Homo sapiens: one gene and its partners. The gene in region 4 interacts genetically with the main gene of each other region. Each region holds a gene or a part of one and is shown on either strand. Other genes may lie near its edges.

Region 1 (3,500 bases), on a different chromosome or scaffold from region 4:
AAAACCCTACACCTCCCTCCCTTCACTTGTCTGTCCTCTTTTCTCCTCTTATTTTAAGTCTTCCAATCCTACTCTCCTTTGCTTATATTCCAAGCTGTTGGTTGGCTTCTTCATTCATCACCTCTTCCACACTCCTGCCAGAATTTCTCCCATCATTCAGACTTGATCATGTCATGCTCCTGCCCAAAATCCTCTGTAACTCTCTCTGCCCCTTAGGTTAAAATGAAGATTTTCCCAGTCTTCCCATACCAGGGTGGTACCAGGCAAAATTAGATGCTTTCTCACATGGGCCCAGTAGTCTCTGTACCTATGATAATTATATAAAATACTGGATTTTTATTATCTGTTGCCCATTTTGAACATAGAGCCCCCTTGAAACAGAGACCAATCATTGTTGTATCCCCTGTTTTGATTTAAGTAGAGGCTCAATTAGTGCTTGTTGAATGAATGCTCACTGAACCGACGATGCACTGTGGGTGATTTGTAAGAAATATCACACAGGTGTGAGTTTGGAATATCAGTTCAAATCCAGGCTCTTCTGCATACTAGGTCTCTGCCATCAGCAAGTAACCTAGTCTCTTCTGGCCTCAGTTTCTTCATCTCTAGAATAGGTTAATCACCTTCACCTCTCACACTGTGAGGATCAAAGGAGATTTTAAAAAGGTCCAGCATAGAGGCCAACCTGGGTTAGGTATTCAGTAAATTCAGGGGCTTTTTTCCTTTGTTTGTTTGTTAAGACTCTTATCACATCCTAAAACATTTTACCAGATACTGAGACCATATGACAAATGAACCCATTGGAGCAATGTTTCTCCCGTCTCCGCTGTTTTTACCTCACTTCCAACCAACCTACACCATGTAAGGAAGCTGGACTTTGCAAAACAGTGGTGGCACTCCTGTTGATTCTCTTCTGACTGTTGTTCACTTCTGTTTTTTAGACATTGTCAGAATGTTGCCAGAATCCCCCACCAGTTCGAGGGGAAGTCATAGCTCCCAGATTTGGGAGTTTATAGTGGCCCTGTCTTCACTCAGCTATGCTCCCAACTTGTTTTTCCCCACTAATCCAAGTAAAAAGAAAGCACAATTATTTCTTTGCAACTCTGATTTCTCCTTGTCACTTTTAAGGAATTTTCAGCCTCAGCTTTCTTTGCTTTTCTTTTTTGAGACAGGGTCTCACTCTGCCGTCCAAGCTGGAGCGCAGTGGCATGATCATAACTCACTGCAGGCTCAAGCGATCCTCCCCATCTCAGCCTCCCGAGTAGCTGGAATCACAGGCACACTCCACAACACCTGGCTAGTTTTTTTTTTTTTTTTATTTTTGTAGAGACAGGGTCTCGCTGTGTTGTCCAGGCTGGTCTCAAACTGTTGGGCTCAAGCAGTCCTCCCACCCCAGCCTCCTGAGTAGCTGGGACTACAGGTGTGAGTCACCATGCCTGGTCTAGCCTCAGCTTTCATACCCAGCGAGCCACCAAGGTTGATTAAGGTGAGAGGGACATTATAAACTCCAGATAGAGAATTCTGATTTTCCTGTAACCTCACATCTACTTCTCTGGTTTTTTTTTTTGTCTCTGAATTCAGAGTGGCCCCAGTTGCCTCCCTAGGGATGATAGGGGAACATGGCATTTCATAGGAGCCAATACTTTCAGCCCACAGCTGTCACCAGAACTTATATGCTTTCCTTTTTGGGCTGAGGGATACTTAGTGCCCTCTGTTAGACTCCCTGGGTACCATGTGACTAACCAGGAAGCCCATCAGACCCTCTGGAAAGACAGCCACAGAATGCACCCAAGACATGGCAGGTGGAGATGTCAAGTACCAGGATTGTAAGATTCCAGAGAATGATTGTAGTTATTTTGTTTGTTCATAATAAAATAAGTTTATAGTCAAAGACTTTAAAAATACAGAAAAACGCAAAATTATTTGCCCATTATCTCACCTCCAGACATACCCACTGTTAAACATTAAATTGAATGTCCCTTCAGTATTTTTATGCATATTTTTAACAAAATCGGGATCTCATTATATATACTATGTGTACCTTGATTTTTTTTAACTGAATAATACACCTTGAACATTTCTCCATGTCAAAGATTTTTCTAAAAGGGTAGTTCTAAGTCTTTTTTGCAACCTAGACACCTTTGAAAATCTGGTAACAAGTATATACTCTCACCAGTTTGGAAAAAATACCACTTAGTTGGCAAACTACATAGAATAATTTCTGTATCATTCCTGGGGTTCACAAATACTCTAAGCTCATCCCTGAATCCCAGGTTAAGAATCTTTACCCTAAAACATGACTTTTAATAACTACTTAAGATTCTCATATGTATAAATGTTGGCTAATGTGACCATTTGGATTACTTTCCATTCTTTTTTAAGTAGTACTTTAATGAAACGCCTTGTCAGTAAATCTTGCATAGCTCTCTGATTACTGTCTTAGGATAAATTCCTATTAGTGAAATTGCTGGGTCAAGAGCATGCCCACTTTGAATGCTTTTGAGACTGAGCTCCAGATCATTATTTGCTTATAATCTGTGAGTGATTGTTTTAAACCATTTCTAAGCATCATCTTGCTGTTCAGTCTTCTAATCTCCCTCTCTCTTCTTTCTCCATTGACACAGCTCCAACCAGGAGATTCAGACCTACGCCATTGCACTGATTAATGCACTTTTTCTGAAGGCTCCTGAGGACAAACGACAGGTCTGTGGCTGCCTTTTCACATTTTTCATCTGGGCTCTTCTGAGATAATTCTCACCCCATGCACTCTTTGCTATGCAGAGAGCACAAATCCAGCAATTTTCCCAAGAGTTCTTCCTCTTAGCTGTCTGGTCTGGAGCCCAGGAGGGTGGCTTTGCTAAGGAAGACCCAGGGAAGACCTATGAGGGGAAACCAGCTGGGTCTTAGATGAGAGCAGGGCCCTTCAAACTTTTTCCTCTAAAGGGCCAGAGAATAAATATGTTTGACTTTATGGGCCATATGGTCTATGTGATAGCTACTCAACCTTGCCATTGTAGCCAAAAGCAGCCTCGGCCAGTAGGTAAATGAATGGGTATGGCTGTCTTCCAATAAAATCTTATTTACAAAAACAGGCAACAGGCCTAATATGGCCATAGTTTGCCAACTCCTGGGTTACAGAATCAAGAATAAGGAAGAGGAGACCCTGTGGCTACCCTGAGTCCAAGGAGTCCAATATGAATGGGATTTCACACTAAATCTTAGGTTTAAAGGTTCTCTGATGGAGATTCTAAACATCTTCCTTCCCCTGTTCATTAACTGTGACATTATGCAGATAGCTCTGCCTCTGTGAACCTTAGTTTCCTCACCTGTCACATGGGAGCAACAACATCTGCCTTGTTTACCTCACAAGGATGTCTGAGGAAAAACAAGATCCCTGTTTCACAAATAAGGAAACTAAGAATCAGCTGGGTGGTGGAACAAACACTGACCTAAGAGCCGAGGGGCCTGGGACTAAGTATTCTCCCTGCTGCTGGCTGGACAAG
Region 2 (3,500 bases), on a different chromosome or scaffold from region 4:
ATCAAAATTTTAAAAATTCTGAATGACCTGGGAGAAAAGTCAATATATAGTGAAAAAGAAAACGTATATCAGTCTTTTCTTTCCTCTCTGTTTTTTTGTTTTTTTTTTTTTTTGAGATGGAGTCTTGTTCTGTCGCCCAGGCTGTAGTGCAGTGGCGCGATCTCGACTCACTGCAACCTCCACCTCCCGGGTTCAAGCAATTCTGCTGCCTCGGCCTCCCAAGTAGCTGGGACTATAGGCGCCCGCCACCATGCCCAGCTAATTTTTGTATTTTTAGTAGAGACAGGGTTTCACCATATTGTCCAGGCTGGTCTCAAACTCCTGACTTTGTGATCCGCCCGCCTTGGCCTCCCAAAGTGCTGGGATTACAGGCTTGAGCCACCACGCCCGGCCACATCACTCTTTTCATCCAGCACTTGTACTTTTAGGAATTTTTTCCTGAAGAGATCATTGGACAAGATTGTTGATAAAAGCAAAAATTTGGAAATAACCTAAAAGCCCATCAATGATACAGTGATTTTAAAAGCTATAGTACATCTATACAATAGAATCCCATTTCACTTTTTTTTTGAGACAGAGTCTTGCTTCGTTGCCCAGGCTGGAGTGCACAGTCTTGGCTCGCTGCAACCTCTGCCTCCTGGGTTCAAGTGATTCTTCCGCCTCAGCCTCCCGAGTAGGTGGGATTACAGGCAACCGCCATCATGCCCAGCTAATTTTTGTATTTTTGTGGAGACGGGGTTTCACCATGTTGGATGATGGTCTTGAACTCCTGACCTCAGGTGATCCACCTGCCTCAGCCTCCCAAAGTGCTGGGATTATAGACATGAGCCACTGTGCCCGGCCCCATTTCACCTTTAAAAAATGATGCAGTATTCTCTACCCAGTAGTTCTAATCCTAGGTATATATTGAGTAGAAGTGGTACATATGTTCACCAAAAGACACGTACAAGAACATTACTAGCACTATTCAAAATAGGAACAAACTGAAAACTAAAGTGCCTCTTAAGAGTAAAATGGATAATTTGTACGTTACTCGTGTGTCGTACTATATACAGCATTGAGAATGAAAGATCTACAGCTGTGTACACTAATGTGAATGAATCTCATACCTGTAAGTGAAAGAGGCAAAGCACAATAGGGTGTATTTGTTATAAGTCTGTTTACGTAAAGTTAAAAAACAGACAATACTAATCTATAGTGTTACAAGGTAGAAGATTGATTTCCTTCGGAGGATAGTGGCTAGAATAGGGCCAAACTAAGGGTCTCTGGGGGACCAATAATGTTTTCTATCTTGAGCTGGGTGCTATTTACTCAGGTTTATTCAGTTTGTGAAAGTCCATTGAGCTGCACAGCTAACATTTGTGCACTTATCTTTATGAAAATCATACTTCAAGAAAAAAAAGTCAAATGAATAAAAACCCAAAATTTAAAAGAAGCGAGAACTGTCACCAAAACTTTAAGTGTTGGTGCCTTTGTGGGGTAAGTTTGGGGGCAACATTACTTTGTTTATGGTACTCCAAATAATTTAAATTCTCTACATAAGTAAATATTATCTTTATGCTCAGAAAAAAAATTATTTTGGAAAAATTATAGACAAATATGAGTTAATATTTTCACAAGCTCTTCCTTTATTACATCAGTATTGTTCTCTGATTTTTTTCCACTTAATTTTTTTTTTTTGACACAGAGTTTTGCTCTTGTCCCCCAGGCTGGAGTGCAGTGGCAGGATCTCCCAACCTCCACCTCCCGGGCTCAAGCAATTCTCTGGCCTCAGCCTCCTGAGTATCTGGGATTACAGGTGTGCACCATCACACCTGGCTATTTTTTTGTATTTTTAGTAGAGACAGGGTTTCACCATGTTGGACAGGCTGATCTCGAACTCCTGACCTCAAGTGATCTCCCCACCTTGGCCTCCCAAAGTGCTGGGATTACAGGCGTGAACCACCACGCCCGGCCTCCACTGAATTTTTAAATACTTAATTTTTAAATAGGCCAGGTGCAGTGGCTCACACCTGTAATCTCAGCACTTTGGGAGGCCAGAGGTGGGAGGAACACTCGATCCCAGGTATTCAAGACCAGACCAGGCAACATAGTGGAACTCTTTCTTCATAAAAAAATAAAAGAATTAGCCAGGTGTGGTGGCATGTGCCTGTAGTCTTAGCTGCTTGGGCAGCGGAGGCAGAGGCTCACTTGAGTCCAAGAGTTTGAAGCTGCAGTGAGCTGATATCCTGTGACTTCGTTACAGCCTGGGAGACAGAGTGAGACCTTGTCTCAAAAAAAAAATTTTTTTTAATTAAAAAAAATTTTTAAATAGATTGTCTTCTGGTAGACCAAAACACCAAAAGAAAAAGAGCATACATTGGAAAATATCTCTCCTATCTCTGTCCCTCAGTTTTGAAAAATTATATGTTCTTAAAGTTAGGAACCGTACTTAAAATATCTTTTTTTTTTCTTTTTTTTGAGATGGAGCCTCACTCTTGTTACCCAGGTAGGAGTGCAGTGGCGCAATCTCAGCTCACTGCAGCCTCCCATCTCCTGGGTTCAAGTGATTCTCCTGCCTCATCTTCCCTAGTAGCTGAGATTATAGGTGTGTACCACCACGCCCGGCTAATTTTTTTGTATTTTTAGTAGAGACGGGGTTTCACCACGTTGGTCAGGCTGGCCTGGAACTCCTGACTTCAAATGATCCACCTGCCTTGGTTTCCCAAAGTGCTAGGATTACAGGCTGTGCTCAGCCCCCAACCACCTTTTTTTTTTTTTTTTGAGACAAAGTCTCACTGTGTCATCCAAGCTGGAGTGCAGTGGCACAATCATGGCTTGGCTCACTGCAGCCTTGACCTCCCAGGGTTAAGTGATCCTCCTCCCTCTGCCTCCAATATAGCTGGGATTACGGGTGCATGCCACCATGCCCATTTAATTTTAAAATTTTTTGCAGAGATGGAGTCTTACTGTGTTGCCAAGGCTGGTCTTGAACTCCTGGGTTCAAGGGATCTGTTTGCCTTGGCCTCTCAAAATGCTAGGATTGCAGGTGCAAGCCACTGCACCAGCCATCCTTTTTTTTTTTTTTTTTTTTTTTGGAGACAATCTTCCTCTCTCGCCCAGGCTAGAGTGCAGTGACGGAATCTTGGCTCACTGCAACCTCTGCCTTTTGGGCTCAGGTGATCCTCCCACCTTAGCCTCCCAAGTAGCTGGGATTACAAAAAAACGTGGTTTTTGGTTTTTGGTTTGTTTTTTTTTTTTTTTTTTGTATTTTTAGTAGAGATAGGGTTTTGCCATGTTGGCCAGCATAAAATATCTTTTTAATGTCAGGCTTTTATAACTTTCTAAGAGGATGTTTTAAATGAAATTGTCTTACATCCTGTATTGTACTTTTAACTATTTCAGCTCATTTTAGATGATTTTCAGGTAGTTTGTTCATAAGGCTACAATATCCAGAATAAATTCTATATTCCACAGTTGTGGCTCTTTTGTCTGATGTCCATCAGGAGAATCCAGTGCCC
Region 3 (3,500 bases), on a different chromosome or scaffold from region 4:
AGTTATTGGCAAACGAGGTTCCGATATCATCATTGTAGGTCGTGGCATAATCTCAGCAGCTGATCGTCTGGAAGCAGCAGAGATGTACAGAAAAGCTGCTTGGGAAGCGTATTTGAGTAGACTTGGTGTTTGAGTGCTTCAGATACATTTTTCAGATACAATGTGAAGACATTGAAGATATGTGGTCCTCCTGAAAGTCACTGGCTGGAAATAATCCAATTATTCCTGCTTGGATTCTTCCACAGGGCCTGTGTAAGAATGGGTTCTGGAGTTCTCATGGTCTTTAGGAAATATTGAGTAATTTGTAATCACCGCATTGATACTATAATAAGTTCATTCTTAAGCTTGCTTTTTTTGAGACTGGTGTTTGTTAGACAGCCACAGTCCTGTCTGGGTTAGGGTCTTCCACATTTGAGGATCCTTCCTATCTCTCCATGGGACTAGACTGCTTTGTTATTCTATTTATTTTTTAATTTTTTTCGAGACAGGATCTCACTCTGTTGCCCAGGATGGAGTGCAGTGGTGAGATCACGGCTCATTGCAGCCTCGACCTCCCAGGTGATCCTCCCACCTCAGCTTCCAGATTAGCTGGTGCTATAGGCATGCACCACCACGTCCATCTAAATTTCTTTATTATTTGTAGAGATGAGGTCTTGCCATGTTACCCAGGCTGGTCTCAACTCCTGGGCTCAAGCGATCCTCCTGCCTCAGTCTCTCAAAGTGCTGGGATTACAGGTGTGAGCCACTGTGCCCAGCCTAATTGCAGTAAGACAAAAATTCTAGGGCACCAAGAGGCTAAAGTCAGCACAGCTTTTCTTGTGTCCTGTATTCTCTGTCTAATGTGTTGCCCAAATAATACCTAATTGTTAGCCATTCCCCTCCATCTCTGGCCTAAAAGTGATAGTCCAGGTATCCACATGGGCTGGTTCCCAGAACTGCCATTGCTCACTCTCCAAAGAGGGGAAGGTGGGGAAGGGGAAGGTGACTATAGCTCAGCTCCTGAGCTAGTATCTGGCTGTTATTTCAACAACCGGAGTTGGGGTTTGGGCTCATTTTTTCCCCTAGCCAGCAATTATGGACCAGTAGTAACACAAGTGACAGCTTCCTGTGACTGACTTCACAATTAGGAGGTCTAAGATTCCATTTGGGTATTTGCTTAAGGATCCCACATAATTGTCCCAACGGTCATTAGTAGAGGGGAGGTAAGCCTTCATTAATAATAAAGAGAAAGCCCACATTCAAGGTGGTGTTTGAGCAGGGGCAGGGTGAGGGCTGTCCCGGTGCTCATTGCACCAGCACACTCACATTCCTTCTCATTTGGGGCCCACCTGCAGGAAGTGGCACAGGATCAGCCATTTCCCCACCCTTGTCAGCTGATGGCCCACTGTTCTTTAATGACTCAGAGGAATGCCTAGGATTTTTTTTTTTTTTTGAGACAGAATCTCACTGTCGCCCAGGCTGGAGTTCAGTGGCACGATCTCGGCTCACTGCAACTTCTGCCTCTCTGGTTCAAGCAGTTCTCCTGCCTCAGCCTCCCGAGTAGCTGGGACTACAAGCCTAGGATTTTTAACTCAGGTTTTTATTATATTCCCTCCTGAAGTTTTTACTTCAAGAGCTTCTGCTCTAAAGTCCAATTTGGGCTTCATGTCCCCAGTGCTGCATCTCCAGGGAAATGCTGTCTGTGGGAGAGACCAACTCTCAAGGAAGAAGTGGCCACAGAAGGAGCAGGAAGGGAGTTGGCCCTCAGGGCTACTCTGGGGAAGCCAAAAGTCATGAAGGGGAGAAGAATTTTCTGACAAAAACTTGCAGGAATCTCTTAGGTGTCTTCAGTGTTGGAGTGATATGTTGAGAGGCCTTTGGAGTGATGTGCTGAGGTCTCAGGCGCCCACCTCCCTGGCTGTCACTTCCATGTGTCAGTGGTTCTCCCACTTTAGCAGGTATCAGAGTCACCTGGAGTCTTGTCAAAACAGGTACCAGCCCCACCCGCAGCGTTTCTGACTCTGGGTAGCTCTGGGATGGGGCTTGAGAATTTGCGTTTCCAAAAAGGTCCCAGGTGATGCTGCGGTTGCCTGCGCAGGGACTGGACTTTGAGAACCACTTCACTGGTTATTCACATTTCTGCCTCTGCAGTGAGACAGCCTTGAGGTCTGCCTCCTGCTAAGAGTCACATGCTCCTGTCCTTTAGAAATGTGGGCTCCTGCCATCTCCAGGACGCAGGCACTGTTCCTGTTGATGAACCCTATTTCACAGGACCCCTGCTAAGGTGATTTGAGGGGAAATGAGAGGAGGCTCAAATAATCACCCAGCCCCTGCCACTTACTGAAAGTGTAGGTCCTTGTGCCCCACACCATCAGAGTTTCTGCGTTAGCAGATTTGTGGTTTGCCCAGCAGCCTGGGCGTGTGCATTTCTAATGGGTGCCTCAAGTGATCTGTTTCTGATTTGTATTTCTATTGTGAAGAGTCAGCCCAGTACTGCAGGCCTCTTACCTAAGCAGAATCCCAGTCTGGCATCAAAGCTTTAGAGGACAAGTTGATTCAGGCAGAGAAGAACTTGGGCTATACAAGCGCTGTTCTTCAGCATTGAAGTATTTTGGAGGCATTAGATAGTTTAACCCTTTCTCAGTCAAGGAATATTTACAGAACATGATCTCTGGGCATTGTAACTCCTGGTCTTAGTGGGGAATATAGGGACCCCATGTCTCCATGGGGTGCACAGAATGTCTGTGAGACTGATGGAGTGGAGAACGCCATCCCCCAGCCTCTCCAGCTACTCGAGGCATTCTGTAGAACATAAGCCCATAGATTGTGTGTGTGTGTGTGTGTGTGTGTGTGTGTGTGTGTGTGTGCATGCGCGCGCGTGCGCACTGGAGGAACCTAAGAAACTATTTGGTGCACTTCCTCTTATTTTAGAGCTCCCAAAGTGTAGCTCCAGAATCGTAAAGGGATATGCTCAGTCTCACAGCCAGCCTGTGGATCTCAGTCCCAACACTCACCCTTGTGCTACTGAGTCAGCTCTAAGAAAATCTGCCAAAAGTAGGCCGAGGGCTGGTTTTTTGTTTTGTTTTGTTTGTTTGATACAGGGTCTTCACTCTGTTGCCCAGGCTGGAGTATATCATGGCTCACTGCAACCTTGACTTGGGCTCAAGCGATCCGCTCAAGTAGCTGGAACTACTCTCAAGTAGCTCTCAAGAGCCTCTCGAGTGGCTGGAACTACAGGCGTGCACCACCACAGCTGGTTAATTTTTAAAATTTTTTGTAGAGACGGTGGAGGAGGTTCTCACTGTGACTCAGTGTGTGCCCGACAGCAGAGCCCACACCACTCCAGTTGCAGTGGTTGCCATCTGGGTCATCAGACCTGGCTGTCAGGGGTGCAGCCACAGGAGAGCCAACAGCAGAGGGTGCTGGCCGCTGAGCTAGCTGCTAATGCTGGCCTGGGTGCAGTTCTCATCCAAAGTACCCGGTGGGTGGGAGTCACTCAGTACCAGTTCCGAGCCTGAACC
Region 4 (5,818 bases):
CACACCTAGCTTTTTTTTTTTTTTTTTAAGAGATGGGGTCTTGCTTTGTTGCCCAGGCTGGTCTTGAACTTCTGGGCTCAAATGATCCTCCCACCTCAGCCTCCCAAAATGCTGGGATTAGGTGTGCACCACACACCTGGCCTAAAGCTCCTATTCTATAAACCAGCATTTGGTTTCTTTGACCTTCTTTCTATGCTGGATAATTTTAGAACTGTATCCTGAACATCATAAATGTTACATTGTGAAGATCCTAAATTCTGTTATTTTTCTAAAATGAGAATGGTTTTGTTGTAAGAAGCAATTATCTTTGCTTAACTTGAACTGTTCTGTTTATTGGGCAGCAACTCCAGTTTCAGTTCAGATCTTTTGCCCTTCATTTGGCTGCTCTGAGTCTGTGACACACAGGAATTATTCAGATTTCAGACAGAATCTGGGTACCCTTTCTTGGCTCTTTCCCTTGCAGGATTCTTCCACTCTCTTCAGTGGCCAAGGTTTCCCTAGCTTCAATTTTCCAGTTTTCCTGGTGAAGAGACCCATAGTTTTCCCACTGACATCCCTGCCCTACCTTACTGTCCTTCCCTATACCTACTGCACTTAGCCCTAGACTAAAAGCCTTCTCCTCAGGCTCCCAGCTCCCCTCTTCTCTTTCTCAACTAGCATCTGTTCTTCCTGTCCAGTAATTTCAGTCAGTTACTTTTTGTATTCCAAACAGGTAGTATAGTGGTCTTTTTTGCAGAAAGCCATATGGTAGGGTCTTCTTCCAACATTACCAGATGAATATGTCCTCCACAGGAGGTTTTTTACCTGAGGAATTAGCATGATGAGATTTACATTATGAGCAGATTTCTCTGGCTGCTGTGAGAGAAATGGTCTCAAGGTAGCAAATGAGAGATCAATAGGAAGAGTCCAGAATAGTCCAGGAAAGACAGATCATATAGGGAATAAAGCATCTGACATACTTTGATTTATAAACATTTATTGAAAAAATATGATAAATTCTGAAAATACTGAAACTAAGGCATCCAAATTTCATTTCATCACCTGCTGGCATTATAAACCTCTTAACAGATTTAATAGGGCCAAACTCTTGGAAGTCATTTCATCTAACCCTTAGGTATGATGCATTCGATAGCACCTGTAATCCCCCAACTTTTCAGAGAATGAGATTTCACTAGGTTTCTCAACAGACTTTTCCAGTATCTTACACTCATATATTGCCCATTAATCTCTCTGGGATGAAAAGAAACAGAAGTGGGCTTTTTCCTTATGGATTTATTTTATCTCAAGGCTGTCAAGCAAAAATGCTGAACCCAGTTCCCCACACAACCATTAAAAATAAGATGATGTTCTTTCTTTCATTAAATTATTGGCAGGAGAGAAGTAAGCAGCACCTCATTTGAAATTTCCCTCAGTCAACAACTCTGTGTGAATATGTTCCTATCAATCTACAGTTTTAACGAGAATTTTTTATTATGACACAGAATCAAAAGACTATGAAAGCTTGCTCTGGGCCTTTATCTGGGTGTTGTTTACACGGATGTGTTCAATTTGTGACAAATTCACCAAACTGTCACTTGAGATATATACTTTTCTTAATATGTGTTATATTTCAAATTTTAAAAAAAAGTCTGTGAAAACGCAAATGTATCTATGCCATATCCCTTCTCTATAATGTCAATTATTCTCACAGGAAAAATACACAGTATCCTGTTTGTGTGGCATAACTTATCTTCACAAAGTTATCCACTACCACTCAAGGTTTTTATGATTAAAAATGTAATATAAGACTCAAACACTAAAAATATATGACTAAATAAAAGTCCTCTATAGTTTCATCTGCCAGAGATACTACATTTAATATTTAAATTCAGAGGCTTATGACTTCCACGTCTCCTATTGTAAATCAATCATACTCTTTTCCAGATTTGGGGCTTGTCACTTTTTCTCCAAAAATTCTCAAAAATAAAGGAATATTGTTTAGAAGCCCTAAATAACTGAGCTAAACAGGCTTGAGTACAAACAATTTTTAAACAGTAAATTTCTATTACATCCTCCACAATTTTCCAAGCCTTTATCTTTTTTGTATCTTCACAGTATCTCTCTCAATTCAAGGCATATGGCGTATGTTCAATAAATATGTGTTGATAGAAATAAAATTAATTCTCTAAAAGAAATAACAATAGTCACTTTCAGATGATACAGGAATATCTCAATATCAATTTCTGGGAGGAGAGGACACATAAGCCTTTAAAAAGTACTCTATGTGCTTATTTTATTTACTTATCTATTTATTTTTACTTTCACTTAATTACCCAGATTCAGAAAGTTTTCTTCTAAGTACTCCTTATCAAGTGTAAATTCATTCCATAAGTAGTTATGAAATTCAATAATAGGAGTGTAACATTCTTCTATCAATTTCCCATGTTTCTCTCCTCTATTCACTCTGTCTATATGGCAATACAAGAAAACACTAAGAAATAAATTATCGCTTAGTCATTAAAAATTCAAAACGTAAGGAAATTAAAACTAAGGTTACATGTGCAAATTAGGATTATGGCATACCTAAAGTCTTAATTTTTTAATTACCACTTCTATATACTGATACAAATTAAAAGATATATACTTAGCATGCAACACAGTTTCAAAAGAAACCATTAATTTACAAAACTGATGATTCACAAAGTATTATCCAACTATGTTGATTTGAAGAGCATAACCTCAAGTTGCCACTTTTATTAAAACAAAAGCCTTATCAATAGTTATAATGCTATAAAGAGAATCCTAGACAATATAATTTGTGCCCCTATATTGATTGAACCAATACCTATAATTGAACAATAGTATACATTTTTATACTTTAATAATGGGAAAAAATGAATCCTACTATATTTAACAAGAAAAAAATGCACTTTTTAATAATCTAAATAGCATAATCTCACAATTTAAGAGCAGACATTTGCATTTTCAAATATATAACAACTGTACTTTAAATAAATTATCTAAATACTTTAAAGAATTCTGTTTTGGTTTAGAACAGGGCCCTCAGAAATAATACCACACATCTACAACCATCTGATCTTTGACAAACCTGACAAAAACAAGAAATGGAGAAAGGATTCCCTATTTAATAAATGGTGCTGGGAAAACTGGCCAGCCATATGTAGAAAGCTGAAACTGGATCCCTTCCTTACACCTTGTACAAAAATTAATTCAAGATGGATTAAAGACTTAAATGTTAGACCTAAAACCATAAAAACCCTAGAAGAAAACCTAGGCAATACCATTCAGGACATCGGCATGGGCAAGGACTTCATGACTAAAACACCAAAAGCAATAGCAACAAAAGCCAAAATTGACAAATGGGATCTAATTAAACTAAAGAGCTTCTGCACAGCAAAAGAAACTACGATCAGAGTGAACAGGCAACCTACAGAATGGGAGAAAACTTTTACAATCTACCCATCTGACAAAGGGCTAATATCCAGAATCTACAAAGAACTCAAACAAATTTACAAGAAAAAATCAACCCCATCAAAAAGTGGGTGAAAGATATGAACAGACACTTCTCAAAAGAAGACATTTATGCAGCCAAAAGACACATGAAAAAATGCTCATCATCACTGGCCATCAGAGAAATGCAAATCAAAACCACAATGAAATACCATCTCACACCAGTTAGAATGGCGATCATTAAAAAGTCAGGAAACAACAGATGCTGGAGAGGATGTGAAGAAATAGGAACACTTTTACACTGTTGGTGGGACTGTAAACTAGTTCAACAGTGTGGCGATTCCTCAAGGATCTAAAACCAAAAATAGCATTTGACCCAGCCATCTCATTACTGGGTATATACCCAAAGGATTATAAATCATGCTGCTATAAAGACACATGCACACGTATGTTTATTGTGGCACTATTCACAATAGCAAAGACTTGGAAGCAACCCAAATGTCCAACAATAATAGACTGGAGTAAGAAAATGTGGCACATATATACCATGGAATATGTGGCACATATATACTATGCAGCCATAAAAAAGGATGAGTTCATGTCCTTTGTAGGGACATGGATGAAGCTGGAAACCATCATTCTGAGCAAACTATTGCCAAGACAGAAAACCAAACACTGCATGTTCTCACTCATAGGTGGGAAATGAACAATGAGAACACGTGGACACAGGGTGGGGAACATCACACACTGGGGCCTGTCATGGGGTAGGGAGAGGAGGGAGGGATAGCATTAGGAGATATATCTAATGTAAATGACAAGTTAATGGGTGCAGCACACCAATATGGCACATGTATACATATGTAACAAACCTGCACGTTGTGCACATGTACCCTAGAACTTAAAGTATAAAAAAAAAATCCGTTTTGTTTTAAAGTGGCATGTTTTAAGAAAAGCTATTCTTAAATAAATCACTGTGCTGTATTAGATGGTTTAGGGTGCTCGATTAAAGCTCCATTCTAATATTCCACTTGATCCTTGGGCTATAGACTGAAATAACATTATTCATTAAATTCCCTATATGTTCTTGAGGTAGATGTTAAGAAACACCTCTCACTAACAATAATTTGTTAGCCATATGCACATGAATGAATTTCTTCAATTATTTAGCTACTTACTGAGAGCCATGCAAGGGATTCCATGATTCGATGTTCACATCGTTCTAAATGTTTTATCATTTCTCTTGTCAAGTTGCCTTCTGCTTTGATAAAACTTTCGATCACTTTGTAAAAATCAAAGGCTTTTAAATTAAGCACATTCAGAATCCATGGGAAAGACAAATCTGTTCCAGAATCAAGATTCTGAGATGTACTTCCTAAAAATGAAAAAAAAAAGTAACTATTTATGAAATATTAACCCTTGAGCTAGGTATTTTTTTGGAAGTTATTATCAGACAAAGAAAACAGTAGAAAGGTTAAACCATTTTTATTTAGAGCAGAATTTTTTATTTTGGAGTCTACGGACTCATAGGAAATAGCCTTCCAATTTTGAGTGTAAGCAAATCTGTGTTTTTCCTAGAGAAAGGACTTATAGCTGATCTCAAATTTTCAAAGATTTAAATACCCTAAACTTATATCAGGAACAGGTTTAGTATCTTATCAGCCATTGGCATATCTATTTTAATTCTCATTAATCCTTGGTAAGAGGATAGACAGATTCTTCAAGATTCTGCTAATTTCATTAGTTACAAAATGGTATCTCATTAAAATATGCATTTCTTGGTTATAAATGAGGATTCACAGTTTTCCTTATCTGTTTACTAATAAGGAAACTAAAAGTTCCTCTTTTTCTGTGTTTTGCATCCTTATACAAATGTTCCTTTTGTTTCTGCAAGCAAAACTTTCTTTTAACATTTGCAACATAATTTGCAAAGTGATATACATTTATGTTTTTAAAAACATTGTAATTGGCCTTTGTTCTGTTTATCCAGTGGATTCTAGCTTCAATCTTTAGTTTCATAACCATGGAGGTTACAGCAGTGCTTCCATATCAGTAGAGGCCACTCTTGAATACTCCTTTGGCACTCTACAATCTCAAAGGTCTTCGGAGGGATTTCAAAAAGTACCTTTTTTGGATTCAGTATACCAGTATACTCAGAAGAGAAGCCTAGTGAAATATTATCCCCAAGATGGCCTCAAATAACTCAAATAAGCCTCTTAAATGGCTTATAATGACCAATTACATTCTTCAGTATATAGTGATCTAAAATAAGCATTCCTTCTCCTTAACCTCACACTATCCCTCTCCCCCGACCAAAGAAACACACCACATTTTAACTTTAAATTGAACAAAAGTGTTTATTTATGAAAAT

The links. Genes that interact genetically often act in the same process or in processes that back each other up.
Region 1: changes in RB1 (region 4) and ELMO2 together harm fitness more than expected from each alone (negative genetic interaction), as found in Homo sapiens cells (one large-scale study listed by BioGRID).
Region 2: changes in RB1 (region 4) and SAP130 together harm fitness more than expected from each alone (negative genetic interaction), as found in Homo sapiens cells (one large-scale study listed by BioGRID).
Region 3: changes in RB1 (region 4) and UMPS together harm fitness more than expected from each alone (negative genetic interaction), as found in Homo sapiens cells (one large-scale study listed by BioGRID).

The regions. Positions count from the first base shown.
Region 1 is NC_000020.11:46,382,616-46,386,115, reverse strand, and holds part of ELMO2 (engulfment and cell motility protein 2), read left to right. Parts: intron 1-2,621; coding exon 2,622-2,700; intron 2,701-3,500. UniProt on the Homo sapiens protein: Involved in cytoskeletal rearrangements required for phagocytosis of apoptotic cells and cell motility. Acts in association with DOCK1 and CRK. Was initially proposed to be required in complex with DOCK1 to activate Rac Rho small GTPases.
Region 2 is NC_000002.12:128,018,060-128,021,559, reverse strand, and holds part of SAP130 (histone deacetylase complex subunit SAP130), read left to right. Parts: intron 1-3,500. UniProt on the Homo sapiens protein: Acts as a transcriptional repressor. May function in the assembly and/or enzymatic activity of the mSin3A corepressor complex or in mediating interactions between the complex and other regulatory complexes.
Region 3 is NC_000003.12:124,743,952-124,747,451, forward strand, and holds part of UMPS (uridine 5'-monophosphate synthase), read left to right. Parts: coding exon 1-133; 3' UTR 134-3,500. UniProt on the Homo sapiens protein: Bifunctional enzyme catalyzing the last two steps of de novo pyrimidine biosynthesis, orotate phosphoribosyltransferase (OPRT), which converts orotate to orotidine-5'-monophosphate (OMP), and orotidine-5'-monophosphate decarboxylase (ODC), the terminal enzymatic reaction that decarboxylates OMP to uridine monophosphate (UMP).
Region 4 is NC_000013.11:48,380,251-48,386,068, reverse strand, and holds part of RB1 (retinoblastoma-associated protein), read right to left. Parts: intron 4,823-5,818; coding exon 4,626-4,822; coding exon of another isoform or gene 4,614-4,625; exon of another isoform or gene 1-4,613. UniProt on the Homo sapiens protein: Tumor suppressor that is a key regulator of the G1/S transition of the cell cycle. The hypophosphorylated form binds transcription regulators of the E2F family, preventing transcription of E2F-responsive genes.